Homo sapiens: one gene and its partner. The protein of the gene in region 1 binds, or shares a complex with, the protein of each later gene. Each region holds a gene or a part of one and is shown in the gene's direction. Other genes may lie near its edges. The genes, in order: ACVR2A and INHBA.

Region 1 (15,660 bases):
GAAGGCATTTATTCAAATAATAAATAAAATTTGTACAATTGCTATTTTTCTATGATTAGCCTAAATAACAAAGGGTAAATTGGATGCCTGAATTATCTTGGTGTTTATCTGATACAGCAAATTCACCATTCTGTGTAACCCAGGTCCAATGATAGCATTGAAAAACAATATCAGACATTCTTTTGGTTTTATAACTATAAAGTTTAGTGCTTTTTCTGTAACAGTTATTTTGTATTACTTTTCAAATTGATACCAGTTATTTCCTCTTTAACAAAAAGGCAAGTTTAACAGTTCTGTGGCCGGGGGGTGGTTTTATTTGTTTGTTTGTTTTTGTTTTTTGTTGTTGTTGTTGTTTGTTTGTTTTAACTAAGTAAAAGAAGTAGGTCTTTTTACTGTGTTGCATAGGTCTTCTGGATGGGACATGCTCCATTTAGAGTTCTTTTTCCTGCTTGAAGGAACAATTAATATGCTTACTACTTGAGAAACAGCATGGCTCATTGGACTAAGCTTTGAGTCAGTAGTTTGGAGTTATAATCCCATTTCTGCTACGGATTCAATTTGTGCCCCTGGGCAAGCCATTTAACCTTTGTATTTGTTCAGCAGAAAATAGGATAAAATTATTACTTCATTTCAGGAGTAGCTAATAATAACTGCTTTTGAATATAAAGAAATGCACATAATGTATTTTGACCAGTTAAAATCACTGCAAACATTCCTACAATTTAGTTTCCCCTAAAGCTTCAGTATGGCTTTGATTAAAATTCTTCTGATTTAAGTTAAAATGAAGCACAATAAAGTGCAGTTAAGTGTTTTGTTTAATTTGCATTCTTAAACAGGTGGGCAAATCCAGTGTAGTTAAGCCTAAGAAAACAAAAATTAAAAAAAAAAAAAAAGAAAAGAAAAAACAATCGCTCTTTCCTTACAGGCTTTAAAAAAAAAAAATGGTAAAAAGTACTCTATATCATTCTCTGTCACCAAAGTGCAAAAATTTACATTCATACCAAATAATATTAAACTTACACCTATTATTTTTCTTTTCTTATTTATAATTCTTTAGAAATAGAGTATTAAATAATAATTATTCCTAAAATGTTATGATAATTTTATCTCAGCACAGATTGACTCATCCAACACCCTGGATACTTTGACATCCCAATTCTTGGACCACCTCATCACCAGTGACCATTTTTTCTATCACTACTATGGTAACTCCCTGGCCATTGTCATTATCAGACACAATTCCTCTCCAAAACCTTGTTAATTTCTAGTCTCTGGCCATAGCTCCTATCCTTCTAGCTCACTTGCTTAAATATCTGCCAAGAAGCAATGGATCCTCCTACTGATGTCAGTTCTCTAATCCAGCGGTCCCCAACCTTTTTGACACCAGGGACCGGTTTTGTGGAAAACAATTTTTCCATGGGGGTATTGGATAATTTCAGGATGAAACTGTTTGACTCAGGTTATCAGGCATTAGAGTCTCATTAGGAGTGCACAATTTAGATCCCTTGCATATGCAGTTCACAATAGGGCTGGCGAGAATCTAATGCTGCTGCTGATCCCCGGAGGTGGAGCGCAGGTGGTAATGCTTGCTGGCCTGATGCTCACCTCCTGCTGTGCGGCCTGGTTCTTAACAGGCCACAGACTAGTATAGGTCTGCGATGTGGGACTTGGGGACTCCTGATCTAATCCATTCTCCTATCAATTCTTTCTATCCACATAGCCTCTTCTAGACTGTCCTTTCTTTTTGTCCAACTCAAATTCTGTGAGTCATTGTTCCAATGGCTCCCATATAATTCCCATAACTTCTTTACCCCTCACTTTCTCAAAATCACTTACTTAATAAATCCAGCCATGTAAGAACTCAATCATCTGCCTTCTCCGTGCCTGCCAACACCTCTACGTTGCAGAAAATAATCACACAGCTGGGTAGACTGGAGTCACCAATCTCAAATGGGCACTCAACCCTGGCAATTCCACTATAAAGCCTCTCTCTCCAGTCTCACTTAGGACTCTTTCATACCTTTTCATCATGCCCCTTTCACTTTAAGGTGAAAACCTTGCTTTACATGTCAGAGAAAAGAAGAGCCCTCAGCTGGGATTGCCATTATGCTCCAATGTTCGGTTCTGTAAACTCATCTGCTTCTGCAAACTCATCTGCTTCTGCTTGCCCTTCCTGCCTCAAAAGGAGGAGGAGGAGGAAGAAGAGGAAGAGGAAGAGAACAACCACTCTCTTCTCAAAGGCCAACCTAACTCTCTCATGTTCTGAAGCTTGTCCTTTCTTGCCTTCACAAGTATTTTGCCCATTCAGTTTTCCTTTCTTCTGCATTTTCAATCTTTCCTCCTATGGCACCATACCTATGAGTTTACATATATAATTTATGATGTCTCCTCTGAAAAGAGAAACAAAATAAAATCCTCTCTTGATTGTGCATTTCCCTTTAGCCACCACCCCATTTATTTGATTTTTTTAAATAGCCAAATGTCTTTAAGGCTTTGTTATTTTTGTATTTTGTTTTTATTTATTTATTTTTGAGACTGAGTCTTGCACTATCGTCCAGGCTGGAGTGCAGTGGTGCGATCTCAGGTCACTGCAGCCTCCGCCTCCCAGGTTCAAGCAATTCTTGTGTCTCAGCCTCCTGAGTAGCTGGGACTTCAGGCACGCACTGCCACGCCTGGCTAATTTTTGTATTTTTAGTAGAGACAGGGTTTCGCCATGTTGGCCAGGCTGGTCTTGAACTCCCAACCTCAGGTGATCTGCCCACCTTAGGTTCCCAAAGTGCTGGGATTACAGGCATGAGCCACTGCGCCGGGCCAAGGCTTTGTTATTTTTGATGTTTCTAAATTTTCATTTACCATTGACTTCAAATATTTCCATCTAGCTTCTGCTAAAACTACTTTCAAGGATGTTAATTCCTTCTATGATGCCACATCCAATGGCTTACATTTTTGTTTTTCATTTTGCTGTATGTCTCTATCGGATTCAACACTGACCCTATCTTCCTTTTGTGAAACACGCCCACATGTGACATCCGTCGCCCCTGGTTTTTATTTAATCTCTGCCTGCCACTTCTTTATCCCCTTTCCTGGCTTTTAATCCTCCACTTGATTGCTACATTTATTCTTCTCTCTCTCTCTCCTCCCTATTTAGATACTCTCATTCATTTCTATGGCCTTAAATACCATTTGCATGGTGACAACTCCCAGATTTATATCTGTAGCATTGCATGTTGCTCCAAACTTCAGTCACGTAGATCCACTTGCTTATGTTACACTATCTCCATTTGAGTGTCTCACAGGCATCTTAAATATAACATTTTTAAAACTAAGTATTTTCACTATTCATCTTTCCAATTTCTGCCCTATAATATCTCTTCCCTTTAAATCTTCCCCATATCAATAAATGACATGACCTCTACTCATTTGCTCAAGAAAAAAAGTAGGAGTCATCCAATCCATCAGCATGTCTTCCAGAATATATCTTAAATCTGCCCACTTCCTTCTGTATTAGTTTACAATATTATCGTCTCATGTCTGACTTACTATAATGCCCTTCTAACTAATTTCTCCGCTTGCTTTGGTAACCTCTTGCAACTCGTTCTTCATGTAACAGCCAGAGTGATCTACTAAACATAAGCCAGACCACACAACTCCCTGACTTAAAACCCTCCAATGGATTGCTACTTCACTTTGAATAAAATCCAAGGACCTTACTTTGGTCCATAGGCTGTTGCATGGACTGGAGCCTATTTTCCTCTCTCTCCTTATTCATACTACTCTCCTAATTGCCATGAGAGCCTTCTTTCAGTTTCTTAAATACATCATCTGTACTGTTTCTTCTTCACTAGCTTCTTTCATGGTTATCTCCTTTTCATCTTCCAGGTTTCAGTTGAAATGTCACATCCTTTGTAAGTCCTTCCTGAATCATTTTCTCTAAATAGTTCCCCTCTTCCTATACTATCCCATTGCTCTTTATCTTAGCATTCTGTCTGCTTTTATAAATAATCCTTTCCATTTGGGAATTACTTGTTTACTGGCTGTTTTCCTGTCTTCTTCGTGATACTGTCAGCTCAGTGATGGTGGAGACTATATCCATTTCATTCGACACTTGTACAACCAAAATCTAGCACAAATTCTGTATCTGATAATTACTTGTTGAATAGATGAATGCCACAGAGAGTGTAATGAAAATGACTGACCCTTATGTGGACTTGTATTATAGAAAATTTCAGGACTATAACATCAAAGCTTTATTCGAGATTTTAAGCACTTGTCAAAATGGATGAAGGCCATTTTTTTTTGAGAAAGAATTGTGTATATAGTCTGCTTTCTACTCCAGTAGGAAATCCATTCTTAGATCCTCTATGATGAATTTCCAATCTGTGAGACCTTTGTGAAGTCAAAGTACAATAAAATTGAATTACTAAGAACTTGAGGCCGGGCACAGTGGCTCACACCTATAATCTGAGCACTTTGGGAGGCCGAGGTAGGCAGATCACTTGAGCTCAGGAGTTCAAGACCAGCCTGGGCAATATGGCAAAACGCCGTCTCTACAAAAAAATGGAAAAAAAAAAATTAGCCCGGTATGTTTGGCACACGTCTGTAGTCCCAGTTACTCAGGAAGCTAAAGTGGGAGGATCACCAGAGCCTGGGAAGTCAAGACTGCAGTGAGTGGTAATTGCATCACTGCACACCAGCCTAGGTGACAGAGTGAGACCTATCTCAAAAATAAAAACAAAAAACAAAACACTTGAAATTAAAACAATAAAATATAAGCTCAATTATTTTATAGTTTCAACAGACGTAATTATCAAGTTTCTACAAAACTTTGTGAACAATTGTTGTCTGTGTCCATACATATCTCATTAAATATTAGTAACAAATCTTTTGAGACCAGCACTGGCTTAAGACCTACACTTTGAGTAGTGCAGGTTTACTCCATCATCCTTCCATTTGATATTGGTTTAAGGTAATAGATCTCAAATCCTGAACTATTCTTTGTCGGGTATGCTAAATGCCCAACCTCCTGCAGAGTATTTAGTATCCTAGTCCTAGGACACTAAAAACCAGTGCCATCACCCTTACTAGTTATTGTCCAAACCAACACCTTTCCCACCTCCTACCCACCAATGGGGGAGCATCAGCAACGCCATAATTTGGAACCACTTGGGGGTGTGGGTTCTGACAGTTGCTCAGTAGTGTTAGCGTAGGCACTGTGGTTATCAGCCTGGGGAGGAATTGAGTCCTAGCACCTGTTCAAGAAAATTAAGCACCTGTGGTAATGAATTTAAAGTGGAGGGTGGGAAAGAATCCTTGCCAAATTATGCCTATTAGTTTTGTTTCCTACACATTTCTTGAATTTTGAAGGGGGCGATAGTGGGGAGAAAAAGTCAAATATTACCTTTGGGATGTTGGGATGTTGAGATTTATATTACATCACAGTTTCTCTTAACTCTTCTAACTCACTTTCTCCTTCACCTAAAATCTTTTGTCTTAACACTTTTCCCCTTATCCATTCCCACATTCTTATCCTCCTCGATATGTCTTTTTGACCCCATTGGCACAGTGCAATGCTATACAGATGGACGTTAAGTAGAAGGGGAGGAATAAATAGCAGCAAAAGCTAGGATGTAGAGAATTTTCTTCCCACCTTGGGCACTTAAGGAGAGGGGGATATTTATAAAAGATACATCGATCATTTCTCCCTTCCTTGGACTCACCAAGTTACCAAATTTATTCCCCATGCATTATGCCTTACAGCGTTGGCATATAAGAAATTCGTTACTTGTGCCACTTCAAGAATGCCCATGTCATCTGAACACAGATTTTTATAGTAGCTAGAAAGCAGCACGAAAGCTTCTAAGTCCTTCATTTAAGGGGAACTTAACATCCTCCATACTCCAAAGGTTTTCAGTCATCTTCCTGAAGATGAAGGAAAAGAGATTAGACGTGTGTTGCTGAAGTGTCTGTTGGTGGGTCCAAACGCAAGTTCAATTATAACCCAGTTCATTTCCAGCTCTACTTCAGAACTGAAGATTTAAACTTCTCCACATCTTTTTGAGCCATGACTTTGTTAACACAAAAAGAAATCTTTTATTCTGGAAGCAGTCTGTGTCACTTATTTACCTCTACCTCCTCATCCAGCCAACACTCTAGATTGAACTGGCTTCTCAAGATTCTTCCACCTGGGAATAATTTTCAGTTCAATTGAACTTGGCAGGACTCTGAACTTCAAATTCTAGCATTGGAGTGGCCATAAGGCTAGGTCTTGGGGCTGGGAAGTGAATGAAGTTAGCTAAAGATGTTTATCTCATAATGCCCGATGCTCTGGTCGATTAGAATTCATGTTTCCTTTTCCTTTCCTCTCCTTTCTCATTTTCCTTCCCAAACCAGGTTTTACACCTTGCAATGTGTTAGGAAGTGGTTGTTGGATTTATGGATTTTAAAAAGTGATTCTAGAAAACAAGGAGGAAAGAAGGGCAATGGGGTTAGCTGTAGCTACCTCTTTTTAAGCTTTGAAGCTCCGGTGGAAATTAGTCACAATTCCTTGTCTTTTTAGGTTACATTATTTTTGAATTAAAAAAAAAAACGAAGGGGTAATTGAACACATTTAGGAACAGAATAGCTGCGTTACTGGTTGTTAATACTTTTCCCATGGGGTTTTCTGTCTTTGTTAGAAAGGAATGTCCTCGTGAAGACTGGCTGCTTCTCTTTAGTACTACAGAAAAATAATTTTCATGCTCTCGTTCTTATAATGGCAAATTTAGTTGGTAAGATAAGGAATATATTTACAAGTTTCAGTTGTATTACTCGCTATTCCAGTTATTCCACTTGCTCAGGCTTCACAATTAAAGAAATACTGAAGTGATGCACAGATAAGACAAGAGTGGGGCCTGACCCTAACTGACATCAAATTCTCTAATGAACTTCAAGTGTTTCTAGAGTAAAATATACTCTTCCATTCCAGAACCGTTAGTACAACTCTTAATTCAACCAGAAAATGGAAGGCTTACACATATTCCTTTGACCAACTCATAAAGATAGGAGAACTACATGAGATCATTCAGACACCTTTAATACCGACTTGGGACTTTGTAACTGTTCCAACATCAGTCAAATTCTGAGCATCACGATTTGAGAACTGGCAATCTTGGAGAGATTTAAAGAGCCACGTTGATTATTAATAACCCTGATAAGTTGTAGAAATGGGCAGATAATTACAGGATGAACTTAATAGACAGAAATACAGAGTAATTTAGAGGAAGTAAACTGCTGTAAATATAAGTGAGAAGACTTGGCTTTGTGGGAAAAGGTGGGAATCAGTAAACCACAAATGAAACATGAATTAGCCATATTATACAGTTGTTTTATTAAAAACCAAAACTTTGTAGAGTACATTAACAGAGACTGTATTTAAGAGAAAGGCAGTCATCCCTTAGTCATTTATACAATTATTTATTAAGCACTTATGTGCTAGTTGATACTTCTGGGTGCTGGAATAAAATAAGGAAAAAATCAAGATCTCTACCTTCACGAAGCTCACTAAAGTGTGGTAAATGACAGAGCAACTACCTTCAATAGTCTCTAGTTTGTATTCTGCAACCAACTGAATACAGCAAATACTAAAAGCTACTTGAGGTAGGGATCCATCCTATTTTTACCTGTTGGATCCCATTCCGTGCCTAGCACACCAGCTTGTAAGCAATCGACATGGATTAAGGGGTAAAAACAGGCCCTTAAATAGCTAAAATTTTGACAAGTAATCACTTGTCTGATCATCAAATATGTCGTTCGAAATCCTCATTTTTTTCTTCAAAGCGCAGTAAACAAGTATTTGCGCACCTATTACGTGCAAAACAGTTTTCAACACAATGCTTTGTGTGTAAAAGGAACGGCGGGAATGGATTCAAGTTGCGCATCGTGATAAATGGCGTGAATATCCTGAGCGGGTGGACAGCCCTTCCTCCGTGAGTTTTTTCTTTTTCTTTTCTAGTCACCAAGACAGCACGCGTGTGCAGAAGCTGCAGCGGTGGGACGCAGTGCTAAGTCTGGGGGCGCACACACCAGCTCGCGCGTCGCGAGCTCGCCTGGGCAGCTCGGCGGGCGCGGCGAAACAGCTCCCACGTCCGCCTTCCACCGACTCCTCGGTATCAGAGCGGACGAGGCGTCCCCCCAGAGGAAAGACTGGGCGCCGCAGACGCCCCTTGGAGAAGTCCCTGGCCACTCGCCCCACCTCGGGGTCCTCTTCCTCTTGGGCTTCTCCTGACCCTTTGGGTGGGCGCTCCAGACAGGCCCGTCGGACGCGATTTGGAAACGGGTCGTGCCCGGCCTAGCCCGCATCTACTCGCCCGGCCACAGCCCAGCCACAGCTTAGGGACTTTGAGGCGCCCGCGCCCCTTTGTCGCGGTATCTCTAGCCCAAGCAGGCCGGACGCCGAGGCCTCGCGGTATCGAGCCTCCGTCCGCCCCGCCTCCTCGCCCTCCACTCCGCCCCGCCCTCGCTCTCTCACCCCTCCCCCGCTCCCGCCTCGCTTCCCCGACAATCTCCTCGCGCTCCCGGCCCGGCACGCGCGCTGCGCCCGGCCGCCGCTGCCGCCGCCGCCGCCGCCGCCGCTGCCGCCGAGCGTTCCTCCGCTGCGCCTGGCTTCCAGCTTCGGGCCGGAACCGGAAGTTTGGGGGGCGGAGCCCGGCGGAGGCCAGGAGACCGAAAACGCGGCCGAGCCCGGAGCCCGGAGCTGGAGCCAGAGCCTGGACCAGAACTTGGCCGCCGCCTGCACCGCCGCCGCCGCTGCCGCCCGCCGCCCCTTCCCCGCGCCGCAGCCGCCTCGCCGCCACCGCCGCGAGCTCGGCCGCCAGTGGTCCTCGGACTTTAGGTGTCTGGGTTGAAGGTCGGTCCGGACATCGGACCCAGTCAGTTCCCAGACTGTCCGGGCGGCAGCGGACGCCGCTGCCGCCGCCGCCTCTTCGTCGCCTCAGCCTGGCGTTTTGTTCCGAGAGACGGGAGAGGCGAGCGGAGCTGACAGTGATTTTGACAGTGATTTAAACCCGCTTTTGTTGTTGTTGGCTTTTCGTTGTTTGGTTTTGTGTGTTGTGCGTGTGTGTGGCGGTTTTTCCCCCGTGGTGCATTTTATTTTTTATCGTTGTGCTCTTTTTTTTCTTTTTTTTTTTTAACCCAGTGAGCGTTTTTTTTTTTTTTTTTTTTTTTTTTTGGTCTGGGCTTCCGAATATGTTTTATGACGGTTGATTTTACACCAGGAGGTTTGTCTCCGAGGAAGACCCAGGGAACTGGATATCTAGCGAGAACTTCCTCCGGATTCCCCGGCGCCTCGGGAAAATGGGAGCTGCTGCAAAGTTGGCGTTTGCCGTCTTTCTTATCTCCTGTTCTTCAGGTAGGTGCAGGGAGCGCGGCGCGGTGGGGCTGCTCCTGCGGCCGCGGCGGCCGCTGCTGGGGGCCGCGGCTGGTGTTGAGTCGGAGAGTCCAGTGGAGCCTGGGGAGGTTGCCCACTCCCTGCGCCCCTCGGCTGCCACCGCCCCCCCCCCCCGCCCCCAGGTCTGATTGTGATCTGGAAACCTCCATGCATTTTTCTCTTTTTGAGTTGGGTCGGCGAGCTGATAAGAGTGAGTGCTGTGTTGTTGTGGAAGTGAGAAAGTCATGTTTTGTGGCCATAACACTGGATGACAGCGCTGGTTGGGTTGCAATTAAGCCGCAAATACCACAAGTGACAATTTATGCAAAGGTTGAGATCTGAAAGGAGTATTTAGTGTGGGCTCCTCCAAAACAAGGGTTGCTTTTTGTCATCGTTTAATTAGTGCTTCACCGGTGAATATCACGACATAGATCAAGCCAGTTGCTGCTTAATTTTGGCTGTGGGAAACAATACATCCTATCAGCAATTTAATCTGGGTCTCCCCTCACGTTTTCTTCAACTTCAGCGTCCAGCAGTGTTAAAAATAGTTGTAGTTGTTGTTGGAGTATTAACTATAACCCAGTGCAGAAGAGGTATGCCGCTTGGTATTGGTAATGTGCTGGCGTTCAACCACCATTTGTGTGCTCTTTTGGGGCATAGATTTTGCTTACCTACGGAATACTTATTTTAAACGCTTTGTATTGAAGCATTGTTTTCGGTTTAGAACAACCCATGTGAAATTGTTTTTGTTAAATATAGTACACTCATAAAATAGGTTTTAGCTCAAGGTTGGGGGAATAAACGGGCCATTTTATATTGGAAATTTTGATTTTGTGAGGACGTTCTATGGTTGCAACCAGTGGTTGGAAAAACTATCTAGTCTTTTGTATTTGAAATTCTATAAATAAATACAGCATCTAGCTGAAAGGTGTGCAGATGTACATAACAGGAGAGTTAGTTCAATAGATGAAACATTTTAAATAAGTCTCATTGGATCTATTTATTGTAAAATTTAATATTCAGTTACAAGCTTGTGGCATAGAATTACGGGGGACTCTTGGAAACGGGGGCGAATTGACAGGTTTCATGGCCATGTCTTTATCTCGTTTGCCACAGGAAAATTAAAGGGTGGTAGTCTTCTTTGTGTACCTCTGTGGGGTGTGTGTGTGTGTGTTTGTGTGTTTGTGTCCGTCTTCCCCACCCCCCTTTAAATATAATCTTTTGTAATGTATAGAATTTTGCTGAATGGTACATTTCCTTGTGGTTAATAAATGGATAAAGTCTAGTCTTATGTCTGTAGTGGTATTGATCAGTTCCGGGTGGGCTGAATGTGTTGTGAAATGGCGATCATTGCCAGAGATTAACCAAAAGAATCATGTCTGTTTAAATGGAAGAAGGAACATGCTTAAGGCAGGCTGACAGTTCTTTTTGTGCACGGTTTGGGAAGGAAGCTAAACAATGGTGTGTCTGAAATGAATGAAGGCCTTGATAACATTAAACCTCTTGCTTTTGTGACATGACTTAACCATGTAGTTTTTATCTTTCCAGTAGTACTCTTTTTTCCTCTGCTTCTATATGTTGTGGCTGGTGAACTCCTCTTGTTCAAATCCCTTGTTCTGATCTCTTGCCCTTGAGGAGGAGGGGCATCATGGCCACTGACCAAGGAATTGTGGACATTATTCCCTCTCAAACCCACCTGAGTCACACTAATTGATGAAGGAGGTTATTCTTGAGCAGTCTCAAGGTATTACTTCTTGAAAAGCAGGCTGTCGCTACAGATCTTACAGCTTCTTCTGCTTGGTTTGGTAGTAAAAATAATTGAGCATTAGTTTCTTGTGGGATTATTTTCATTGGGCCAGGATTATTTTCAGTGGGCCAGGAGGTTAATAGCTATAATTTTGAAATAAAGTGATTTTGTTGCTGTAGGGCATATAGATATTCCACTTATATTAAACTAATATTATGTTGTTGCATAGGCTTTTTAAGATGAACATTCCCAGTTGAACTAAAATATGTGATTCTGTTGAAGATAATTGAAATAATCATAAAGACCTTAATCCATATTTATACATGAACAATTTGAGTACTTAAAATGTCTGATTTTTAAAAGCCTTTTGTTATGGATCAGATGCACTCTAAAAAAGGATTATTATGTTTCTCCAACTAATTGATTTTTCTACAAAATGTGTGATCTGACATGTTGGAAGCATGAGGTGACTATTTTTATGAGAATTTTAAAAATTCTCAGGTTGTCAGTTTTTCATTTCTAGATATTTGATTTTTTTTAAAAATCAAAATGGGAAACAATAGTAAGGAACAGTTTTGTTCCAGGTGTTTAGGAGGGATGTTTACTATTTCGTGGACTCTGATTTTTCAGTTTCCATCCCATGGTATGTATTCTGGAGACTGATTATGCAGACTATTCCTGTAGGATATGGCCAAGTGTATAATTTCCTCCTCTCTCTCATTCCAGGGGAAACATTTTAAATTTTGCCCCTATCCTGGAGTGCCTTCAGATTACCTTTGATTTTGAATTTTTTCATTCCTCTCATACTTTCTCAGATTCTGTTTCAAAACATAAATCTTAGTTTTCTTTTTATAGCATTGTGGTTTATTTGTGTCTTTCCCCACAGTTTGTTGAAGTATGAGAATGACTTTAATACTTGCTTTAGTACTTAGATTTATCCTATCTAGAGTTATGCAGCTATTGTGGTATTTGAGTTGCATAGAAGTAAGTTGAGAATTCCTTTGGATTTTGTGGGAGCTGGAGCAGTATGGTCAATGTATTTGATGAAAGAGGAAATGGAAATATGGTAATTATGTTTTCTTCAGTTCAGCTAGGCAGTACTGTGTATGTGTGAATGTATGTGTGGTTGGAGGGGGAGTTAGCATTACAGAGAATCTTTTGGGATTCTTTTGAACTTTGATTAACAAGTGATGGATGATAAATACTTTGTTTTCTAAAAGGCAGAATCTCTTATAAATGGTGTCTGTGGTCAAATTCAAATATAATACATTGAAACATGGAGACTAGAAACAAAATGAAACAAAATTCTCCCTCCATTCATTTTCTATTTTTTTTTCCTGTTTATGATCTAAGCCAACAGTTCTCAAGCTGGGGTGAGTCCCCCTCCCTACTTCCCCAGATCCCCATCCATGGGACATTTGGAGACATTTTTGGTTGTCACAACAGGGGACGGGGTGTGCTACTGGCATCTAGTTGGGTAGAGGGCAGGGATGCTTCTAATCGTCCTAAAATACATGGTACAGCCTTCCACAACAAAGAGTTAGCTGGCTCAATATGTCAGTAGTGTAGAGGTCAAAAAACCCTGTTCTAAGAAAACCAAATACCACATGTTCCTATAAGTAGGAGCAAAATGATGAGAAAACATGAAAACAAAGAACAGAACAGCAGACACTGGGGTCTACTCAAGGATGGAGGGTGGGAGGAGGTAGATGAGCAGAAAAGATAACTATTGGGTACTGGACTTAATACCTGGGTAATGAAGTAATCTGCACAGCAAACCCCATTATACGAGTTTACCCATGTAACAGACCTTCACATGTACCCCCAAACCTAAAATACAAATTAAAAAAAAAGGAAAAACTCAGTTCTAAACTCTTAAATTTTAAAAGCAGTAGTTTATTAGTAAAAGGGCTCTGCTCTCTTCCCCCTAAAGTTAGTAATCTAAATTTTACAAGTACATGGTATTGATGATCTCCAGGTAACGTTGTATTGAAAGATTTTTATCTTTTCATTATCTTTTAAATTAGAATATGATTAAATTAGAGAAACAGACTATAGATACGCACATTCTTTCATCCTTGATGAAATGCTTGAGAATTCACCAGTATAGTATAATATTTTATACTATAATAAAATATTCCAATGACTTATGGATAAACTCTCCTATCACCGATTTTGATAGAGTGCTCATGAAGACTGCATGTTCCTGGACATAATGAATGATTGGTTAAGGTATCAAGTTTAATTATATTTGCTTTAGATCCAGGATTTTCTTTGCCATGATATGATCTTTAAGGATATTTGCCTTTATTTTTACTGACATCATTGGGCTGCCTTATGGCGGTATTCGTGTGTGTGTGTAACATGTTGCCTGAAATATGTTCACTATTACATGTTCCCTGAATAGTTTCAAGGTAGAAATTCTGTTTTTTTAAAAAAGATATTTCTTTTGTCTAGCTAACTTTAATTTCAAGAAACTTTTAACCTAATCTCTTAATTACATAATTATCTTGAGAATCACTAGCTGGGTTTTGGTTACCGTTAGACTAATTCATGATACAGTAAGTAATATTTTATGATCTATTGCAGATCGTTTCCCTTTTTAAGGCTAAATCTTGACCATAATTAATAAAATGCTTACCTTGTTTTGAACTCTGGTTTTAAGGGAGTTAACCTAGCCAACCAAGATAAGAATTACAGTGAAACTCTTAGCAAATTAAGGAGCATTATACCATAGAGAGGAAAATTCTGAAGTCATTCCCACAAATGGTGTCCAAATGAGCCTCACAGTGTCTTTGTAACACACCTCTCCATACCCTTCTCTCTGATACTGACATTTTCGCCTTTTGGGTCCACCAGACTCACTGTTCTTAAGAGAAGCACAACTAAACCAAATGAGATTTTAGTAATCTCTAAATTGTTTCTTTAGATTCCAAGACTTTATTTTGTTGCATTTTGACTTTTTAAAGTGCTACTATGATTTTCTCATCTTTGATATTTCATGAGTCCAATGATTTAAATTTGTGTTTTCATGGTCTGTTAAGTTGCCAGTTGCCATGTTGTCTCAGATTATAGGTAAGGTTGGCAACATTTGATACTAGGGGTCACTGGTATGCCTTAGCTTTTTGCTCACTGCTCTGTAACTCATTGTTTTTTCCATTCCCTTTCATTATTGTTCCCTTTCCATTTTCCTCCCTTCTTTGTCTACTCCCTTTTCTTCCCCTGACCCTTCTGTACTTCCTTATACTGCTTGCTTGTGGAACCCAGTTGTGGCTTAGCATCATGGGTGACTCCAGAGGGCTTACCCGTAGTTTTAATGAAAACAGATTGAATTTAGAATGCTTGAGAATTGACCAGATAGTCTTTTCCACTGTTTTTTCATTTACTGGTTTCTGGACTACCTCGCACACCCTCTTGGGAATAGTGTTACTCTCTTAGAATCAAATGGCTTGAACTTTAGATTGCTCTTATTCTCTTTTTTAATATTCAGGTTTTCCTTAACTCTTTGCTGCTTCAGAAAAAGTTTCGCTCATCTTATTATTCATTTATCATCTCTGTTTAAGCCAAAATTTGACTAGAACCAAGAGTATATTTATTGCTGCTGATAGGACCACATTAGACTTCCTCTGTGGTAGATTTAATTCTGTTAGATTGTAAAATAGTCATGTCTAGACAGAACATTGATTTCAAATTGACTATTGAACATGAAAATTCCAGGAATAGTGTATAGAGGAAGGAGGAGGAGGAGGAGAAATCAAGAAGGTAAGAAAACTACTGTAGATAGCAAGTGACTTTCTGTCATTCTCCACCTAGATTTCTTGTTAGTCACTTTTGTATACCCAGTGCATCTAGAGGTCAGGCTTTGTTTTAATAAAGGGACTTAAAGGAAATATGTTTTTGTCTCTGAGATTGGATTTTTTGAACTGTTAGAGTGGTGGACCTAAGGGAAAGAATTGGAAACTTCATATGGATAGTGATCAAGAATGTGGTCGTAGAGGTTGGTAGACTTGAGCTGTGGTGTCAGTGCTGCCAGTATCTAGCTTATGTATCATTTTCTGTTACTTGATTATTGTAGCACTTTTCTAGCTAAGATTCACCAGTTCCCTATCACTACTTCCTTTTCTTTCTAGTCCATCTGCATAGCTGCTGGAGTGATCTTATTAAAAAATAAATCTGAATATGTTACCCTTGCTTAAAACCTTTCACTGACTGTGAGTCACCTTTAGCATAGAATCTAAAGTCTTAGAATGTCATAAAAGGTCCTTCATCGTTTGGTTCCTGCCTATTTTTTCTAACCTCTTGGTATTGGTTAAGAGTATAGACTCTGGATATAGACCTAATTGGTTTAAATCTTGGTTTCATAACTTAACCTTGGTCAAGTTACTTCACCTTTGTGTGCCTCAGTTTTCTCATCTACACAATGGGGGGATATTAATAGTGCCTACCTCAGAGAGTGGTTTGAATATTAAATGCTAGTTATTCTGCTGCAGCTTCTCCTCAGCCTGAGTAC
Region 2 (14,617 bases), on another chromosome or scaffold:
AGGCATAGCCAGCCTGTGGTAAAAACATTTGCTTTCCTGATGCATGCAACATTGTGGAGATGCTACTTTTGTGTGTGGGGTGTGTGTGTTTGTGTGTGTGTGTGTGTGTGTGTGTGTAGCTACTGAACACTGAGAATTTTGTCTATTCAAAAAGAAACAACAGAAACATGATGCTGAGCTCTTGAGGATCCTTGAACCAATGTCTTCTTTTGGTTTTGATTACGTACCTATTTTAGTTTCCAGAAGCTCCTCATGGGATAAAGAGTAGTAGGTGTGGAAACCAGATCACAGAGAGGTAGGCTGACTTGTAACTTTCCAGCCAGGGACAGAGCCCCTGTGTGTAGTAGGGTCTTTTCAGTACCAGTCTACCCTGGTGGCTTGTCACAGAGCATTTGCCCATCTTTCCAAGGCTCTACAAAATAGGATGCAGGGAATTCAGGTCAGCCAATAAAGCTTTTTTAAAAAAGGAAGAGAAATAATACCAGTAAGCAACATTGACTGTGTACCAGCACATTCTATGCGGCTCACACGACTAACTCAGCTATCCCTGACAACAATCCTATCTATGAATATTATTATCCATATTTATTATACTAATTGTGGAACCAAGTCATTTGCCCAGGAGTTTGAAAGTGGTGAATCCTAAATTTGAACCCAGTCAGTCTGACTGCAGGACCCACACATTCAACCACTACCTTTTGCCTCATCTTCAAATGGTGTTTTGCATACTTCAGAGCACTGAGGTGGCTGTGCCCTTGGTCACTGGGAGGCCATACTTGGCTGCACCCATTTGGACTGTCAGGATCTTCTCCAGTCAGAGGCCACCGCCAGGGCCAGAGACAATGGAGAATTATTTAGTATCCAGTGGTTCTAGAAACTGCCTCTGTTTCAAGCCCAGGAAGAAGGCTTTCTGAGGAGGACATTCCTTCTTGGGACAAGGACCCTTAGTGAGATTTGGCCTTTATGCACCTCCATCTGAAAAGCTAAGCTTTTCTCTGGGAATTTGAATTGAAGGTTAGGGATGATTGCTCAGATGGGGAAAGTGTGAAATGGTAATCACTTTCATATGACACTCGAGAAATGTTATAATAAAGCTGAGTAAATTGGAGCATGAGTTAGCCGGTCCTTTGCCTAATGATGTCACTCACTTTGTGCTTCCTCCAGCCTATGATTAATAAAAGAGGGGTTATGACAGTAACTCACTCCTAGTGGGCAGCAGTGACGTCAGCAGCAGCTGAGCAAACTGACTACATTTAGTTGTGCGTGTGTATGTGGGCATTTTTTTTTCCTGTGACTAACATGAAGATAACAGCATCTAATAAAACAAAAGCTCCTTGAAATTTGGGAAACTTATTGGGTGAACTCTTTTCTACAGGGAGCACCATTTTAATTATTCTCAGCTCATAGTTAAGTGATGTTGGAGTTGGCCAAAATTACCTTGTTGGCTTTCTGCCCCTGTTTCATTAAGGGATCACAAATGAACCCCTGGCCTTTTGGAGAGAGGTTTTCTGGAGTGTTTTTTTCCTTCTACTATAGAGGCTCCTCCCTCATTCATTATACTCTTCCATCTTTTAAGAGGAACTCAATGAGTAGAAGAGGGATTGTAGCCATAAGTTATTTTTTGAAAGTTTAAAGCTGGTTGTAGAATTCAGTGATTCCATTTTAAACTTTGTAAGAATATTGTGCTTAATTACAGTTTGCTTTTCCAATCTAAAGTGACAGAAGTCCTACTTGCTATTTCACCTTTGCAAACTTGACCTTCCTAAAATTAGAGTGGGCCACCTGGAAATATTTACTCACCTAGCTGAGCTGCTGCCAGTGTCCACGCGAGTCCACAGGACTCGTGAACAGCAGCACTCAGCCCATGCCTTGGAGCTGCTCCCACAGAGGGCAGAACCTTTGGACTCTATTAGGACACGAGGGAGGCAGCAATTCACTGATTTAAAAAAAATACACACAGAACTGCCCCCAGGCTTTTCTGTCGGGCTTTTTCCCTCCAAGCAGCGATTTGGGAACAGGTTGTGGGGGGATCTTTGTGGACAGGCAAAAGTGGATGCAAATCAAGATTGCTGCTCTCTTATCAGTCCAATGGAATCTACGTGCTAAACCACCATGTCTTCAAGTCACCAATGGAACTTATTACCCAAGGGGATCCAGGTGAGAAAAATGATTACAACAATCTGTTCCGCATTCCTTGGGGGGTATTTTTCAATAATCTTCTGAGGCAATAGGAAGATAAATTGTTGAAGCAGATGTTTCCTGATTGGGTTAGAACTGAGTCATGATAAACAATTTTGAAATATATATTGGTCAGGAAGAATGTTGAGGGCATATTTCTTCAGGTTGAGTTAGTCTGGGTTTTTTTCAATATATGTTTTTATATAGTGGTTGTAAATGAGTATTTCTTTCAATATTGAATTTTTTTTACATGTACTACATGGTTACTTCTTGGGAAGAAGTCCAGGCATTTCTGAATCATTTGAAAGTTGATTGAGGCCTTTGGTTCCAAAATGACCATTTACCTGAGGAGACAGTGATTCACACGTTGGAAGAGATGATACGGCGTCAGAGTGTCTAAGACATTCCCCTCATGGCTCCCTTCATCTTAAAATGATCTCTGACCTACCCTTTCCTTTCTGGATGACCCATTTTACTCAGGAGCTAAGTGATGAACCAGGGAAGTAAGCACTCACTGTATGGACAACAGGATTTCAGTTCTAAGCTAGTTTTATCCAGGCAACTTCCCTCTTGTGCATTTCACCAATACTTGTTGATTACTCTTACGATTTTCCATGAGATGGAATCCTTCACAATAGTTTCCCCAGTCCTCACAGGAGAGCAACACCTGGAAGGGCATGGCCTTCCTTTAATAGACACACCACTTCCTTTTACAAAGGAAGTTTGGAGAATATAATGTTGCTTGCAACAGCCATTAGGATTTAGCAAAACACTGTTTTATCTCTTTGGATATTGATTGTATGTCATTCCCCTAAGGTATTAAACAAATAAAATCAAGCTACATCATATTTGTTTGCTCTAGGAGAAAGGCATGGTTATCCTACGTTTGTGAATTTTACTTCAGGGAATTCTCTATTGCATGGATTTATCTGATACTGAATTGCTAAAATGAACAACTCAATCCTTTATTCATTTACTCTTTTGCATGAGTCTCTTGTCTCCTAACAACTTGGGTGTGGGCCAGCCCATCTCATTTTGTTGCTGGTCACCAAGATTCTGCTTTAGGTCAGAACAAAAAGCCAGCAGGAAAATGTATTGAGACCATACGTGAAAGTTGGTTGGAACAACGAGGTTGCCCAAGAGGAACATTGTATCTGTAGTCTCCAGTAATCAGAAAACATAAGATGCAAAAGGAAGCAGAATCACTTGAATTATTAGTATTTTGTAGAGCTGCAATTTTTTTTTTTTTTTGGTTTCCAAGGCCTCTTGGAGATGGATAGGGAGAAGGTTGAGTGAAACTTTACAATTATAATATGAAATCAGGGTATCTCAACTGCAGAACAATGAACACTGTAGGCCAGGTAATTTCTTGTTGTTGGGGGCTGTCCTGTGCATGGTAGGATATTCAGCAGCATCCCTGGGCCCTACCCACTAATGATCAGTAGAACCTCCCTCCCAGCTGTAACAACCAAAATGTCTTCAAACATGGCCAGATGTTCCCCGGGGAGCAAAATCGCCCCGGTTGAGAACCACTGCTGTAGAATGAAGAGTAATAGGTTACTTACTGGGTTTTCTTCCTCCTTCTCTTTTCCCTAATTGTTTTAGTTCTAGTATCTGGGTTCCCTTGGTTCAGAAAGCAGCATTTCCAAATAATCTAAAAACAGAGTGCTCTTACATAGCAGAAGGCCTTGTGGGATATTCTGGTGGTTCTGAAAGAAATGTGAAGCTTACGAGTCAAGTTTCAGATTAACCATTTCTGACCCTGTTGTTCTCAATGAATTTCAGGGGACTTTTTAATGCTTTCCTCTCTCTCTCTGTTTCGATCTATTCATTCATTGATTTAACTTAAAAGCAAAACAGCTTCCCAGTTCAATTTTGAACGTGAAACGCTGATTCTCCTTTGTCCCAAATCTTTCTACCTAACATTCAGCCCAAGCTATGTACAGGCTGCGGCTGTCCAGGAAACAGGCAGGGTTTGCCAATCCCATGTTCGATTTAAACCATTTGATGAGACCCTTCATCACAGACTCTCGCAGTCTCCCTGCAGCAAATAGTACTCTGGATCCTGCCCACGTTCTCTGGATTCTGAGCTGCCTCTGGAGGGAGTCACCCCTCACCAACAAGGCCAGGTTTTCCGGCCTGAGCCCCAGAATAACACATCAGCTGCTGGGAACACCTCGAGTCCTTTTGATTTCTCTCCATAGTCACGTTTTATGTTCGGTTTCCCAGACGGGATGAACCAGAAATCATGCTTTTTTGGAAACAGATTTTTTCATAGGAAGGAAAGAAAACACCGTGACTCGTCAGCACTCTTGTCCGTGCCTCTGAACCCCCAGCCTTGTGTCATTTCAGCTGAATCAGAGAACAACATCCCAGTCACCTGCTTGGGGCGTTCGCGTCTCCTGGCTTGTATTTTTGACTGAATAACAGCAATCCGTGAGCAGCAGCTAAAATAATAGAGCCCTGAAAAATGCCCCAACCCCCACTCCCTTTTCTGGTCCTGTCTCCTTGCTCCAGGAGTAGTGAGGAAAGAGACCAGTTAATAGCGTGGATGAAAGCTGAAGGACAGACGGTTTGAGAAGAAAAGTGAACATTCTTGCTTCCTCATCTATGCCAACTTTGAACAGGGACAGCTGCTGCCACAGGTAAACACCACTATAGGGTTGGCCGTGGCCCTAAGCTAGGTGTCACCGTAAGCCACGGGCCAGCACACGAACGCTGGCCTCTCCCCCATTCGCACAATTGAGCTCTTATCCTTAAACGAACTTTGTTTTTTGACCAGCTCACTAATTGTGATTGAAAACACCAGCTCCCCAGCAATGCACACGCATTGGAGTTAGCAGCAGCAAGACAGGCCCTAATTGCTCCATTTACATAAAAGTAGAAACATACAACTTCTAAATATAAATCTCTGGCACATCGTTCCTTTTGCAATTACAGTAAAATAAGGTACCACAGTTTCCCTCCCGGCTCCTTCTCGCAGCAAGCTGCTCCACCGGGTTCGCTAGTGGCTGCTCCTCGAGGCGAGAACAGAGCCATGCAAATGCTCCAGCGTGGAGTTGGGTTTGTGAAGTCGCCAGTAAATCAGGCCGCCTCCACTAGGTGAATAACGCGGTGGCAGCGGGCCACTTTGCTAGTGCAGTCGCTGGAGGACCGCGCTCCGCACTCAGAAGGGGGCAGTTGGCTGGTGCGCGAGCGCTCCCGGCTCGCCTCTGTCCGCGGGGAGCCAGCCGGCCCCTCCGCAGGTCCCGCTCCCTGACATTTGCTGTGGTTTCACTCCCTGGCACTGAGGGCTGGGTTCAGAGATTCCCAGCTGCACTCACTGAACAGTGATTTTTTTCCCCTCCCTGAATTCTTTAGCTGCCAAAAGGGGGGAAAAAATCAAGAGCTGCTCTTAAAAGAAGTTGCCCTTGCTGGTGCTCAGGGTAAAAATAGAGGCTGCCGCTTAGACCGGCTTGGCCCTGGCTCCAGGCATCCTGCGAGCTGGGCTCGAGCAGCGGCCGCGTTCCGGCGTGATCCCTGGAAGCTGCCAGCAGGTGCTGCTCAAGGTACAGTAGCAGGGCCGAGAAGCCGGGACCCGAAGGGCCTGGGGTGCGGGGAAGCTCCGGGGGAGGGGGAAGTGAAAGAGAAACCAAACCAAGGAAGGAGAAGGAGATTCTGGTCAGGACTGGGCTGACCAGCTTGTGCCCCGGGCCCTTGAGTTCCGCAGGGAAAAGCTGATTCCCAGTCTAGAATATTCCACAGAAGCTATTTTAACCTGCCTGCTTCCTCCACCACCCCCACCTTGATTTGCACCGAGGGAGGAGGCATTGCCACTGTGGTGCAGGTGGTTGCAGAGGGGTTGCAGCACGGCTGGTAGGCTGGCCTGGCAGGTGGGCACTCGGTGGCATCAGATGGCCAGCGGAGTTTCAGAGTCACACTTGTGTTGTGGCTCCTCTGGTCAGAGAGCTGCAGATTCCTGTGACACCCATGTTTAAGAACAGCCACCAGGCTTCTCAGAAATAGTATCACTTATTATTATCTGACAGCTGCACTTGACCCCCACAGGTTCATATCATGGATCCCATTTTATAGATGGGAACACTGAGGCCTGAGTTTACACGGTGAGTGAGCAGAGGAACTGGGATCTGATCTGGGTTTGTTTTGTGCCCCCCACCCCCACCCCACGTCACCTACACACACACACACACACACACACACACACACACACACACACACACTACTTTGTGTGGAGGCGGAGGGGATGTTTTCAGGACACTAGGGTTCATGTGTGGGTCAGGGGTGAGTTTAGATGCCCTGAAGGTCATTGACTCCACTAATTCTCAGCAAAAAGGGTGGAGAAGTTTCTTTCTTATAAAGGGTTTGAGTTCACCCAGTGCTAAGCTGAGGGGCAGGTTTGGAGTTCACCATCATTAATCCTATTTCTGTCTTCGCCACTCAGATTCACTCTCTTCCTCTACAACCTAATGATTTTTTTCCTACTTCATTTCTGCATATGCAGTTCTTAGAATACTCCTTCCCCCCACCCCCATGCAGCTCAGCACCCACACTTTCTCTGTATCTAGCCAAGAGAGACCCTTTTACACAGAAAACTTCTGGTGTCCTAATGGAACCTGCTTAAGCCACACATCAGGAGGCCAGAGCCTCTATATTTTGCTTGTGGGCACAGTGAAAAGTTTATTTTATGCATGTTAAATCCTGCATACAAAACAACATATCTGGTCATATGGCTCTCATTAGCTCCCAATTTTGCACATTTTATCCAACTTGTCATGAGAACTGGGCTTATGCTTCAACTGTAGTCCTTCAAACAACCCTTCACCGTTCTTGTCAGAGGACCCCTTCCTCCTGTGTTATTTACCAGACTTGCCAACACCCCTCCCCCACAAAAAAAGCCTGACCAGCTTTACCCCTATTTCAAGGAGTGTTCACTTCTTTTCATTAATCTGCTGTTATATTTGTAACAATTTAGAAATTATAGGAGTTGAAGTTCTGGTAAAAAAGAATGATGCATGAGGGTTTTTGTTGTTGTTGTTGTTGTGTGTGTGTGTGTGTGTGTGTGTGTTTGGTTAGTTAGAATGAGATTCTAAAGACCTGGGAAGGATACTTATGAAGTTCATTTAAAGAGAATTACTATTTCCAAAGTTCTTGATTTATGAAGCAGGCATTCAATTTCAAGATGTAAAATAATAGTGTAAGTTGGTTGGGGTCGGGGGAGACCATCATCATATGATTATACAGATTTTCCCAATTTTTTTCCTCAATGAAATAGCTTATTTTAAAAATATAAAATTAGAATCCCTATAAAGAACACTACCAATTTTCTTTCCTGAAAGAAACAATAAAATACTTTGTAAATAGAAGCAACTTCATGAAGTAACAGATGTTTTATGTAAAGACATAAAACTGAACCTGAATATAACGAGACGTGTGTGCGAGTAGTAAAAGTTGAAAGTTGGACACACTCATTGAGACATATCTATTTGATTCCAATGTTTTTCTAAAAGGTAGAGTAATCCTAGCCAGAGGTTTCACTGGCTCAGTGCATCACCCAGTAGTGTCTCAGAAGCCAGGAAGGGCTTTCCATTAGATAATGAATTATGAAATGTCTCACACTGGAAAAACCAGTCATCCGCTGATGTCATGCTGATTCCAACCAATCCCAAACAAAGCCCCAGCCCTCCTCTGTTTCAGTGGTACCAATGTGTGGTGTACAAATAAGTAGTACAGTATAAAACTTCACAGTGCCAATACCATGAAGAGGAGCTCAGACAGCTCTTACCACATGATACAAGAGCCGGCTGGTGGAAGAGTGGGGACCAGAAAGGTAATGCTTTTTAACTCTTACTTCTGAGCTCTTTACACATTCAAAGATAGGAAAGCTAGGAGGAATTTTACAACTAATTGGCATTTCCAATGTGCATTGTGATGTGTACCTTTTTATATTATTCAGGCAGGTTAATACAGCTTTTAATAGTCCTAGAGCATGCAAATAGATTATATGTTTATACAAGCCACTCAGCACATATATACAAGTACATATGCCAAAGAGAAAGCTATTTTTAAGAGTTACATTCGCAAACAGTAAATTCAGGGAACACACACATACTCAGATGCAGAGAGAATCCAAATATTGATAAGTTGCACTTATCTAAATGCTGCTATTAGGACTCCTGAGTTGTTTAGAGCCATTAAACTTTTGGTTGTATTTCAGACTTTCTTGTAAAACTTAATTGAACTGCAAAACATTTTGGGTACTGTATATGTGACTCCAAATAGGTGGATGATGTTAAGTATTATAGCACAAAGATTTTTTATAAAACCATTGTAACACAAATGTCCCCTGCCTCCCCCATTCTCTTTCACCATCCCCGTAAAAAATATGAGGCTTTTTAGGCAATGTTGACAAAGTTTTAACAATAATGGTGGAGTAATTGATGTTTCTGGAGCTGAAACCCCAAAGGTGTTAGGTTACTTGTAACAGAAAAAGTCTTACAAATAGTTGTTTTGGAAAAGGGGACAGTATATATAATTCAGAAAGCATTGTTAACCTGTGCAAACTGTAATTATAACTTAGTGTCACAATTTTCTTGCCCTCTTCCCCTTGCACTCAGATCTTATCTTGTAGTAATGATATTTATTAACTCTTTCCACCTAAACTGCATTGCTTGACTGTAATGCTATGAACACACTAGGTGTCAGATATAAGCTGAGTGTATCTTCAGAAACCAAGAGGGCTTATGTGTGGGAAAGAAACCGAGAGGGAAGGAACGCTTTAACAGATGGACCCCTTAAAGATTCTTCTGCAAGATAAAAGCAATAAGACAGAAAATGAAAAAGAGGGGAGGGGGAAGAATTTTTTTTAAGCCTTAGAAAGGCATTGTTAAAAAATTCACATTTTTCTTTTTCTGTGCACACTAAAATCCATGATGATTTCATCTGCACTGTTCCTTTGAGGGAAAAAGAAGCAGTCAAGGAGGCTGTCTATGAATGCACTGGTCGGGACAGGCTTGGGGCAAGCTGAAAAAACTACCACATGACAGAGAAAAATAATTTGCCAATATATTTTAGAGAGTCTTTTCCCATAGGACCAGTTATTCAAGTCATACGAGTGCACTCTTTTTATAAAAGGATGTGGGAAAGGCCAAGAGAATTTTGCATTTTATCTGTGAAGTCCGGCGAGTGGTGGTAGGCTGTAATGTGTGAGAGTGAGTGGGTCCCCGGCAGAAGGGGGCAGCTGAACGCGACGGGGAGAAAGCGCTTCTGGAACTTGGGCTTGTGACAGGCTGCCTGCCCTCTGGTCCTTCAGTGCCCTGCTGCATTTCACAGTTGGGAAGAGTGGAGTGTATTATATGACCCCAAACAAAAGTTCCATTGCGCTCTCCTCAGATTGCCTGCCAGTGTTGATGACCTGAACATTTAAATATGAATGAATTGGGGGAAAGGACCATCTCCCCTGGATCCCATCAGGCCAGAACAATCCTCTGTTACCCCTGAGTCCCTCTTCCCTGACCTCCACTACCTGTCCACTGGACCTCCCTGCACCCTCTGCCCCACCACGTGGCCAGGTGGGCGTTCTACCACCTAGGGCTGTGGCTTGGCTGGGTGGAGGGGCGGTGGGAACACTTTTTCAATCAATTCATCCCTATTGATTGAGACACTGTGTTTGTTTGGGGTTTCTTTTCTCCCCTCCAAAAAAGGAAGAAGGTGAAACCAGGAGACTGGGCAGAGAAAGAAAAAAAAATAGTGAACAAAATTAGGATAATTTATTTTAGAAGAGAAAGTAGAACCCCCGAAAATGGTGATATTTGAAGAGAGGTGTCTGTGAGGAAGCTAAGAGCAGAAGGAGAGCAGCCTGTCAGAAAACGGGCTGTCCCTCCCTCCCTAATCACAGCCCTACTCACAGCAAACTCCCTCCCTCTCCATTCACTCACTTACTTAGGGCCAATCCTTTCTCTCTCTCTCTCTCTCTCTCTCTCTCTCTCTCTCTTCCTTTCCCTCTCTCCCTCTCCCCCTCCCTTCCCTCCCTCTCTCCCTCTCTCTCCCCCTTCTTTCCCTCTCTCTTCTCTCCCCCTCTCTCCTCTCTCTCTGTCTCTGTCTCCCTCCCATCCTCTCTCTCTGTCTCTGTCTGTCTCCCCGCCACCCTGTCTCTCCCTCCCTCCCTGTCTCCCTCCCTCCCTCCCTCCTTCCTTCTCTCTTACTCGGAGACAGTCAGAACTCTCCTCCCTGACAGCCACAAACCTACAGCACTGACTGCATTCAGAGAGGAACCTGCAAACAAAACTTCACAGAAAACTTTTTGTTCTTGTTCCAGAGAATTTGCTGAAGAGGAGAAGGAAAAAAAAAACACCAAAAAAAAAAATAAAAAAATCCACACACACAAAAAAACCTGCGCGTGAGGGGGGAGGAAAAGCAGGGCCTTTTAAAAAGGCAATCACAACAACTTTTGCTGCCAGGATGCCCTTGCTTTGGCTGAGAGGATTTCTGTTGGCAAGTTGCTGGATTATAGTGAGGAGTTCCCCCACCCCAGGATCCGAGGGGCACAGCGCGGCCCCCGACTGTCCGTCCTGTGCGCTGGCCGCCCTCCCAAAGGATGTACCCAACTCTCAGCCAGAGATGGTGGAGGCCGTCAAGAAGCACATTTTAAACATGCTGCACTTGAAGAAGAGACCCGATGTCACCCAGCCGGTACCCAAGGCGGCGCTTCTGAACGCGATCAGAAAGCTTCATGTGGGCAAAGTCGGGGAGAACGGGTATGTGGAGATAGAGGATGACATTGGAAGGAGGGCAGAAATGAATGAACTTATGGAGCAGACCTCGGAGATCATCACGTTTGCCGAGTCAGGTTGGTGCTGGCATTGGCAGGGGGTGGGGAGGGGTGGGGGGTGGGAGGGTAAAATATATTTCTTTGACAGTCCCAGGAGGAACTTCTTTTCCCTTCAGCTGGAAACTGCCTGGGAAGGTTATTAGTTATTAGGTGATGGTAGCGGACTAGCCGACGGAGGGCAGGCAGGGGAGGGGGAGAGGACTTTACAGAAAAGGAATTCTCGGTCGAGCTCTGCCTGGAGATGACTGGCTTACACTTACTAAACCCAGCGGGTCACACAGAGAGGAAGCTCGGGGCCAATGTTGAGCTGGAAGGCAGACTGTGAGGGGCTGCCTTGCCCTGCCTGTGAAACCAGATCTGAGCAGCCGGAGGAAAGCCGCGGCATTTTCGGGTGCTAGGGGAGCAGAGGAGGCTTCCGGACCCCATCCAAGTTTTTATTGAGGGTAGAGGGGTGAATGTACCAGGATTGGAGTGGAATGGCACAGATGAAGTCACTCTCTTAAAACAAACCTTCCCCTTTAAAAGTCCAATCTGGGGCCACATTGGAGAAGCAGGGCATATTTATGAGTGACAGTCATTTTTACCTTTAGAAAATGTCTATAAGTGCACAGGCACCACATTCAAGACAGGGAAGAGCTACTTTGGGGGACAGTTGTCATTGAACCAGCAGTTACTTTTGGGACACTGACTTTTGCTCTCTGAAAGAAAAAAAAATAAATAAAACAACCAGTTTTGTTCTTTCTAAAGTTACTAAGAGCTCTCTGCCAAGGAACGCAACCTTGACAAAGTACTCTCAGATACTACGCTGAACTCACTCAATCCTTAAGAGGAAGAACTTTAATAAATAGATTCTAATCGTTGGCCCAGGACCACACTAACCTGTTGCTGAATAGCAATACCTGTCAAAAGTATGGGCCCATGGACTTGGAGCCAGGCTATTTTTATAGTTAAGTGACACAGATCCTTTGCATGCCTGCAAGCCCATGCACGTCAGGCACACAGATGTGTTAATACCGTGTTACTTTCATGGTAATGCCAGGCTAAAGAATTGCATCCTTTGCCAACTCCATTTGAAAGGAATGCCATTGTTTTGTTTGGTAGAGCATATGGCCAGTAAAGTATGTGCAGGGACTCCCAGCATTTTTGTTTAAAAGTTTGCCGCAGCAGTATAAACAATTAAGGCAACACTCAGAATTTCCAATCTGAAAACCTGTTGACTCAGATGTTCTGTTTTCAAGAAAACCATGAAAGACCAGGGCATCTTTCCGGGGGTGCAGATAGCCTGCTGGCTGTGTGGCTTCCCCTTGCAGGAGAAGCCCTGGTGTCCTACAAGCTTCCCAGTTTGGCTCTCTCACCAGAAGCCTCTCTCACTTAGGGAAGATCCTACTTTCTTTCCCTAAAGCTCTTTCTTAACCCAGCCCCAAAAGGCATGATCATTAGGACTTTATCTTCTGGAGCTTTTTGAGGAAGAAAGCTAGGTTGGAACTTTTCAAGTTGACACCCATTTTTTTTTCTCAACTTTTCATGGTGGGAAAAGGTAAAAAAGAAAATATTTACAATATTTGGCTGTGCATGTGAAACAGATTTCAGTGGTCTAGAGGGTTGCTTCCTGTCTTTGTATACCAACCTCCACACATGATGGATTCAATGACAGCTCGTATCCAGTTGCCTTTAACCATGTCATATGACTAAGTATACCTATGCCTTTGACCACTTTTAACCGCACTACCGTTACTAGCAATATGCCCCTCTTTCTGACTTACTGGACTTGTATAGCAAATCACTCTCTTAGCATTTAGAGATTTGGCAGTGAAAAAATTTGACCATTTACATTCTTTCTTATGTGTGGTCTTCCTTTCTGTGACAGTCTTCTCTCAGTTGTATGAGATCTTGTCATTTTTTTACTTCTCAGTTAGGTGTTTAGTTTGAAAAAAAATGAGCGACTTTTGAAAAAGCGATTCGTTGGACGTTCACATTGAGTCAAGTTTAAGATTTGTAATGGGAAACTCCTGGTTGACTTTACAACTTGACTTTGGATTCTTAGAAAACACTTATTACAATTGCTTATTTTTCTCTGAGGGATTTCACACATCAACTTCAAGTTGATTTAATGTAATTTCATGTATTTAATGATTGCTGTATGGACTGTCTACTCTTCAAGCAGAAAACCACGTGAGCATTTTGCTGCTGATTTTGCTAGTCCAGAAAAGACATTTATCATCCAAATGATTGTAGCAAATATATGAACATGAATAGAAAAGACCTATGTCTTGTTGCTTTTGGAATAATTCAACTTTAATAACATTCCAACTATGTGGAATGTCAAGAGTTTTTGGAGAATAGAAAAAGGAATGCATTTTTCTTTCCCTTATAACCATTTTGTGCAGCATAGAATCCAGACATTGTCACCCATGAGCATGCCACAGATGCAGACCCATAGCAGCCCCTTTCAACCTCAAGATTCTTCAATTTGAGGCTACGTTTAATTTTTGCCTTTTCTCTCCTTGATTGTTGGATAAAGCCAAGGCCTGGCTACAGAAGTAGAGAGCCTCCAAAAGCTGAAGTGCTGAGGACTCTTTTAACTGAGTTTGTCCCATCCTGTTTAGGTAGAAAGTGCTCAATTTTTGTAAAGTTGATGCGAGTTGTTATTGACTAAACAGCAGGGAATCACTCTAAGGCTCTCTGAAATGTATCCCAACAAACAAAAATTATTTTATTTTTATATATGTCACATCACCCAAGATTTCTCACCAAGGTTAGTGTGTTCTTTGCATGGCTGGCACAAAACCCTCAATGTTTTACCTTAAGGCCTACAGAGTTCTTCACAAGGAAAGATAGAAGGGATGGGTAAAGCCAAGCTATCACTATAAATGTCATGAAGCTAAATTCAGTGGCCTTTTCAGCTGATGCAGCTTATTTTTATTTTATTTTGACTCATGACAGTAGGTGGTCAATCAATGCATAATAATAATGTACCTCTAAGTCTCCATATGCTGTCAAACCTGGATGTGGGTTCTGGTAATTAGCTTAGCAATTGATAGCACTTGTTGTAGAAAGAATAGGGAAAGAAAGACAAATGACACACCAAGAAATGGATGTGCTCACGTAGCCTAGGTGTTGTTAAGCGCAACACATAAGTCTACCCCTTGGAGGATACTATGTATGGAAGATTTGAGTTAGAAGTTTGCACTGCCCAGACAGGGATCCAAGAAGCTTTGCTTGGATGACCATTTTCCCCACCCCAAGAAAGCCATCTCAAAATGAAGCTGACTCCCACCATTCCAATCCCACCTTCCGAACTTTTCTGTGAATCACCCCTCCTTTAGGGATGCCTTTAGGGGTTACACGCTCTCTTCCGTGAATAATGGGGAAGAGCGGCCACAAGAGGGCGCGTTCCAAAGACTTTTGCTCCTTGTCAGTGTATCCAGGGAAAGGCAGTTGCGCGTACTGGAAGCCCCTGTCTGTAGCGCCCTAATCTTGGTGATTATCAGTTACCGCCTGCTCCCTCTCATCCTGCAGAAAAAGTTAGGAATTTATGAGATGGGAGAAGCATGACTACCTGTAATACATTAAATGAGACAGAAGGAAAGGAAATGGAAATTCTAGTGATAC

Evidence for each region.
Region 2: the proteins of ACVR2A (region 1) and INHBA are in contact, whole or in part, in a crystal structure (PDB 7U5P), measured with the Homo sapiens proteins. Residues at the interface, in NP_001265508.1 of Homo sapiens: Asn36, Asp53, Lys56, Phe61, Thr63, Lys65, Val74, Lys75, Cys78, Trp79, Leu80, Asp81, Asp82, Ile83, Asn84, Val100, Phe102; in NP_002183.1 of Homo sapiens: Ile340, Ala341, Pro342, His346, Arg397, Pro398, Met399, Ser400, Met401, Leu402, Tyr404, Asn409, Ile410, Ile411, Lys412, Asp414, Glu421.

The regions. Positions count from the first base shown.
Region 1 is NC_000002.12:147,835,823-147,851,482, forward strand, and holds the start of ACVR2A (activin receptor type-2A isoform 1 precursor), read left to right. Parts: upstream 1-9,206; 5' UTR 9,207-9,330; coding exon 9,331-9,385; intron 9,386-15,660. UniProt on the Homo sapiens protein: On ligand binding, forms a receptor complex consisting of two type II and two type I transmembrane serine/threonine kinases.
Region 2 is NC_000007.14:41,696,393-41,711,009, reverse strand, and holds the start of INHBA (inhibin beta A chain preproprotein), read left to right. Parts: upstream 1-7,919; 5' UTR 7,920-8,005; intron 8,006-10,492; 5' UTR 10,493-10,635; coding exon 10,636-11,023; intron 11,024-14,617. UniProt on the Homo sapiens protein: Inhibins/activins are involved in regulating a number of diverse functions such as hypothalamic and pituitary hormone secretion, gonadal hormone secretion, germ cell development and maturation, erythroid differentiation, insulin secretion, nerve cell survival, embryonic axial development or bone growth, depending on their subunit composition.